Regions from separate parts of the Homo sapiens genome. Here region 2 is linked to region 1. Evidence: fine-mapped expression QTL. A gene starts in region 1. The other region holds a variant in brackets. All regions are shown on one strand. Distances are from middle to middle.

Evidence for each region.
Region 2: its variant is fine-mapped to the expression of FDXACB1 in fibroblasts (GTEx, PIP 0.95).

Annotation. Positions count from the first base shown.
Region 1 is chr11:111,877,458-111,880,374 of GRCh38, reverse strand. It overlaps FDXACB1 (ferredoxin-fold anticodon binding domain containing 1), which reads left to right and starts at 1,210. Exons shown (of 5, transcript NM_138378.3): 1 at 1,210-1,414; 2 at 1,663-1,819. The coding sequence starts at 1,243. It overlaps CFAP68 (cilia and flagella associated protein 68), which reads right to left and starts at 834. Exons shown (of 4, transcript NM_022761.3): 1 at 770-834. The coding sequence starts at 814. RefSeq lists enhancers at 957-1,426, 923-1,542.
Region 2 is chr11:111,904,180-111,907,096 of GRCh38, reverse strand. No RefSeq gene overlaps it. Among named protein-coding and RNA genes, the nearest start is that of CRYAB, 6.1 kb to the left of the region's middle. The variant C/G (reference allele first, on the strand shown) is at 1,384.

The DNA of each region.
Region 1 (2,917 bases):
CTGGGAATGCAGCCCAGGTCTTAGCCTTATTTACCTAGCCCCTATTCAAGACGGAGTTGCTCTGGTATAAATACCTCTGACATTCTCACTTATAAGTGGGAGCTAAACATTGAGCAAACATGGACCTAAACATGGAAACAACACACACTCCAGGCTACTAACTAGAGTGGGGAGGGCGGGTGGTGTGGGTTGAAAAACTATTAGGTGCAATATACCCATGTAGCAAACCTGCAACCTACCTGGGTGCAATATATCCACGTAACAAACCTGTACCTGTACCCCCATTTGTAAAATAAAAGTTGATTTTTTTTAAAGGCTTACAACGCTCCCTATGACCTGGCCCCTGCCTAACTCTTCAGTCTCATCTGTTACTCTCCCTCCAATTGTGTTTCAGCCAAACTCAACTATTCTGTTTCTCCATCAAGCTTTTGCATATATTGTTCCTTCTGCCTCTTCACGCCTCTTGACTCAGTTAAGATGCACTTTTACCCTGTTAGCTTTCAACTCGGGTTTACTTCATCCAAGGACTCTCTGACCCTCTTCGCCCCCAAACTTGGTAACGTTCTTCTGTGTGCTCCCAGAGCACACACCCTGCCATATCAGAGTTGCCTGTTTTGCTCTGTGCATTCCCCACCAGACTGCAGGCTCATTGAAATCATAGGCCACATTTTGTTCATCCACATATCGTAACCACCCTCACAGTGGCCTGGCACGCAATAGACACTCAATACTCTTTCTTGAACGAATAGAAGATAGGAGATTTAAGCACCTGGAAGAGAAATTTTGAGCAGCAGAGACACTGGGAGGCAGCCATTTCAGACGAGGTGAAAAAAGGTTCAAAACCTTCTGCGTCAGGAGCATGCGAGACACAGTCCAACCTCTTCCTTGGCCTCAGCCCCGCCCCGTTTCTTTCACCCAGAACTCGCCTCACCCCCCTGCGCTAGTGACTGCTTGTGACCTCATGCAGGTGTGATGAAGTCGCTCAAGGCCATGCTTGGGCTAAAGACACTTTGATCTTCCCGAGGGGGTGAAAGGGCGAGGTGACAGGAAAGTGCGCGTCTTGCTTTTGCACTCATAGTTATCATCCACCGGGGAGTCGGTACACCGGCTCGTCTAGACAACCAGGCGCCATGGGTGCGTCATCAACTAGTGACGGGAGAAGACGGGGCGGAGAGAGATCCGTGAAGGAAGTGACGTAAAACGAGCGCCACAGAGAACGCGAGCCGGGAGTCCGTGGAGGCCATGGCCCCTCGGCGCCTCCTGTTGGTTGGGGAGGGGAATTTCTCCTTCGCCGCCGCTCTGAGCGAAACCCTGGATCAGAGCACTCAACTTACCGCCACCTGCCTCCAGCGCCCGGCCGAGTTGGCTCGGGATCCACTGGCCTGGGAGAATCTGCAGTGCCTGCGCGAGCGAGGTAGCGAGCCCGCCCCTCTGCGAAACCCCGCCCAGCGGCCGGCGCGTCCCAAAGTGGAAAGGGTGGGGGCGTGGGGATGTAACCCACGTGGAGATTGTTCTTGATCGTCCCACGGATATTCACATAAAGCCGGCTTTGTGCCCAGACTTGGGCTGGTCTGCACGGTTTAAGTTAGGAAGAGTTTTTCTGTTCCATGTCTTGAGGCATCCTCCTGTCTATATTTTGCGCCCCCAAACTATCTTTGCCAGGTATCGATGTACGTTTCGGTGTGGACTGCACCCAGCTGGCAGATGTCTTTGAACTGCACGAGAGAGAATTTGATCAAATTTATTTCATCTTCCCGCATTGTGGACGCAAAGCTGGCGTAGCTAAGAACAGGGAACTGCTTGCCAAATTTTTCCAAAGGTGAGGAAAGGAGCGCCCTCACAAGGAAAATGTTTAAGATGTCCATAACATAGTTACTGTACCCAAACATAAGGCACACGTGCAAGCTACTATGATATGTTTAGAAGAGACTATAAAGCCCCAAAGGAACCCCAAGTTTAGTTGGAAAGACAGATATATAAACCCTAAATGCTAAATGAAAGTACAAATAATGTACTCTTGGGTGTGTAAAAGAGGATCATTTATTTTTGACAGTGCAAAATAATGAGAGCCATATAGTCTAATGGCTAAGAACGTGCACTTAGAAGCCAGACTGCCTGGATTCAAATCCCAGCCCACCACTTAACAGTTGTTATTTTTTTATTTTTATTTATTTTTATTTTTTGAGACAGAGTCTCGCCCTGTCGCCCAGGCTGGAGTGCAGTGGTGTGGTGCAATCTCGGCTCACTGCAAGCTCCGCCTACTGGGTTCACGCCATTCTCCTGCCTCAGCCTCCCAAGTAGCTGGGAGTACAGGCGCCCGCCACCACGCCCAGCTAATTTTTTGTATTTTTAGTAGAGATGGGGTTTCACCGTGTTAGCCAGGATGGTGTCGATCTCCTGACCTTGTGATCCGCCTGCCTTGGCCTCCTAAAGTGCTGGGATTACAGGCATGAGCCACCACGCCCGGCCAACAGTTGTTATTTTAAGCAAGCTTACTTAATCTTTACATGCTTCCGTTTCCTCAACTGTAAACTAGGGATATTAATAGTAACTAACTGGGCCAGGCGTGGTGGCTCATGCCTGTAATCCCAGCAGTTTGGGAGGCCGAGGTGAGCAGATCACCTGAGGTCAGGAGTTTGAGACCAGCCTGGCCAAAGTGGCAAAACCCCGCCTCTACTAAAAATATAAAAATTAGCTGGCCGTGCTGGCACGTGCCTGTAGTCCCAGGTACTTGGGAGGCTGAGGCAGGAGAATCGCTTGAACTTGGGAGGTGGAGGTTGCAGTGAGCTGAGATCGTGCCACTGCACTCCAGCCTGGGCGACAGAGCAAGACTCCATCTCAAAAAAAAAAAAAAAAAAAAAAGTAACTAACAGCCTCATAAAATTATTGTGAACTGAAAACAGTGCTTTACATGATT
Region 2 (2,917 bases), 27 kb before region 1:
AAATTCATGATGCAGGGGTGTGGAGCTAGGACAATATAAATTGCAAATCTATACCGGTTCAAAAATGCTTTCTCTTAAAAAACAACTTCCTAATAGTCTGAAATACTGTGATCTAGCCAGAAGTTTACAGCCAATTTTTGTGGCTGTGTAGCAGACACTGTTGGTTGCCTAACCAACAGCTATTTACCACCTTCAGCCTTGCCAACAGTATCCCAGATTGGTTTAGGTATACACCATGTTCTTCCTAGCCATGTGCTTCAGAGAAGTGAACTCAAGCTCCAGCCATAGGAGGTCTATCTTGATTAGTCCAAATCAAGCAGGGAAATTCTCTTCTTGATTTTCAAGATTATTCTTGAAAGGGCTATGACTCAATTATGGCAAATGAGACAGGAGGGAAGTCTGTTGGAGATGCTTCTAGAAAAAGTTTCTAAACTAAGAAAAGATTTCAGAAAGATTCAGAGAGAGAGAGAGAGAGATTTTTTTTTTCCTTGCTCTGGATGTTGGAGCACGAGAATGTGATGCCTGGATTACTGTAGCCATTTTGAAAACGTGAAGCGGGCATCCATGATATGCTGAGCACAAAGACAATAATCTCAGGTCCTTAATGGGTCAATGAACTGCTGAATTAGCCAACTCTAGAGTTTCCCTACTTCAGGCTGTCTGATTATGTCTTGTTTTTGTTAATAATCTGTTTTGACGTGGGTTTTCTGTTACTAGTAGGCAAAAATATCTAACATTATCAAGGCTGAATTAGATAGTGTAAAATAACTGAATGCCTGGAAGCCATGTGTCAATTTTAATCATTTTAGTTAATTACTAGTATATTTCCCAAGCAATTATGGACTTGGTTTTAAATAAATCACAACTTCGACTATTATATAATGATATTTGTTTCAAAAATGTGCAGGGCCACTTTTTTTGTTTATTGTCACCATAAGTGCCTAAGTTAGACTGGTTCTTTATTGTTATTCTTTCCTAGATCACACCCTTTGCTGTGGCTATTCACTGCTACGATATTAGTATAGGACTATTCTAGTACAGTATATTTGAGAGGTTTTTTTTTTTAGCTTTATAGCTAACTCATCCACAATTCTACTTCATTCCCTATATCTGAATTATACCAGAAGTTTACTGAGACAATTCTAATTAGTATTTGTTTTGTCTTTTAATGTTAGCTAACATTTATTGAGCACTGTATTAGTCCATTCTCACATTGCTATAAAGAACTGGCTGAGACTGGGTAATTTATAAAAAAAGAGGTTTAATCATTTCACAGTTCCACAGGAAGCATGGCTGGGGGGGCCTCAGGAAACTTACAATCATGGTGGGAAGGCAAAGGGGAAGCAGGCACATCTTACATGGCTGGAGCAGGAAGAAGAGAGA[C/G]CGAAGGGGGAAGTGCTACACACTTTTAAACAACCAGGTCTCATGAGAACTCGACTCACTATCATGAGAAAAGCTATGAAGTCCACTCCCATGATCCAGTCACCTCCCACCAGGCCCCTCTGCCAACATTGAGGATTACAATTTGGCATGAGACTTAGGTGGGGACACAGAGCCAAGCCATATCAAGCACTTACTGTGTGGTAGGCACTGTGCTAAGTGCTTTAACCTTTTTAAAGCAATCATTTTTTAAAGAAGAATTCTGGGGAATGTGTGTATAATATATATATGTTATTTCAGTAAGATGTAATACTTAGAAAATGAGATGGTTATCTTTGCCTAATGCTTTTGGAATGATACATATTTTTATGCTTCGAAAAATTCTATGCTACTTTTTACTTCACATTTTTATTTTGAAGATTGCACTGGGTCCGATTGTTGTTCTGAAGATTTATAATTGCTGTTCATTCAATGATTATTTGAGTGCCTTCTATGTGCTAGCTACAAAAATAAGACATGTTTTCTTAAGGAATTAAGAATTGAGTGGAAGAGCAGGCAAGTAAAAAGATAATTCCGAGATACCTTTTTAAGATCCTAAGATGTCCATTCAAAATGTCTGCTATGGGGACCCTGAAGGGAAATACCTATTCTGGACACAGAAGGAGTCCTGGAGACAGTTACCCTGGATGAATTTTGGTTGGTTGGTTGGTTTTTGTGTTGTTGTTGTTGTTTGCAGTGGCATGATGTATTAGTCCGTTTTTATGCTACGGATAAAGACATACCTGAGGCTGGGTAATTTATAAACAAAAAGAGGTTTAATGGACTCACAATTCCACGTGTTTGGGGAGGCCTCACAGTCATGGCAGAGGGTGAAAGGCACATCTTACATGGTGGCAGACAAGAGAGAAATGAGAACCAAGTGAAAAGGGTCTCCCCTTATAAAACCATCAAATCTTGTGAGACTTATTCACTACCAAAGAACCGTATGGGGGAAACTTCCCCCATGATTCAATTATCTCCCACCAGGTCCCTCCCACAACACATGGGAATTATGGGAGCTACAATTCAAGATGAGATTTGGGTGGGGACACAGCCAAACAATATTACATGATTACAGCTCATGGCAGCTTCAACCTCCTGGGCTCAAGCCACCTTCCTGCCTCAGCTTCCCAAGTAGCTGGGACTACAGGCCTGAGCCACCATGCTGGGCTTTTTTTTTTTTTAGAGACAAGGTCTCACTATGTTGCCCAGGCTGTTCTTGAACTCCTGGGCTCAAGGAAGCCTCCTGCGTTGGCCTCCCAAAGTGCTGGATTTATAGGCATGAGCCACCACATCTGACCTCCTGACTGAATTTTTGTTAATTAAATATTTTTTTTTTTTAGACAAAGTCTGACTTTGTCGTCCAGGCTGAAATGCAGTGACATGATCACAACTCACTGCAGCCTTGACCTTCCAGGCTTAAGTGCTTCTCCCACCTCAGCCTTCTGAGTAGCTGAGACTGCAGATGCATACCACCACACCCAGCTAATTTTTATAT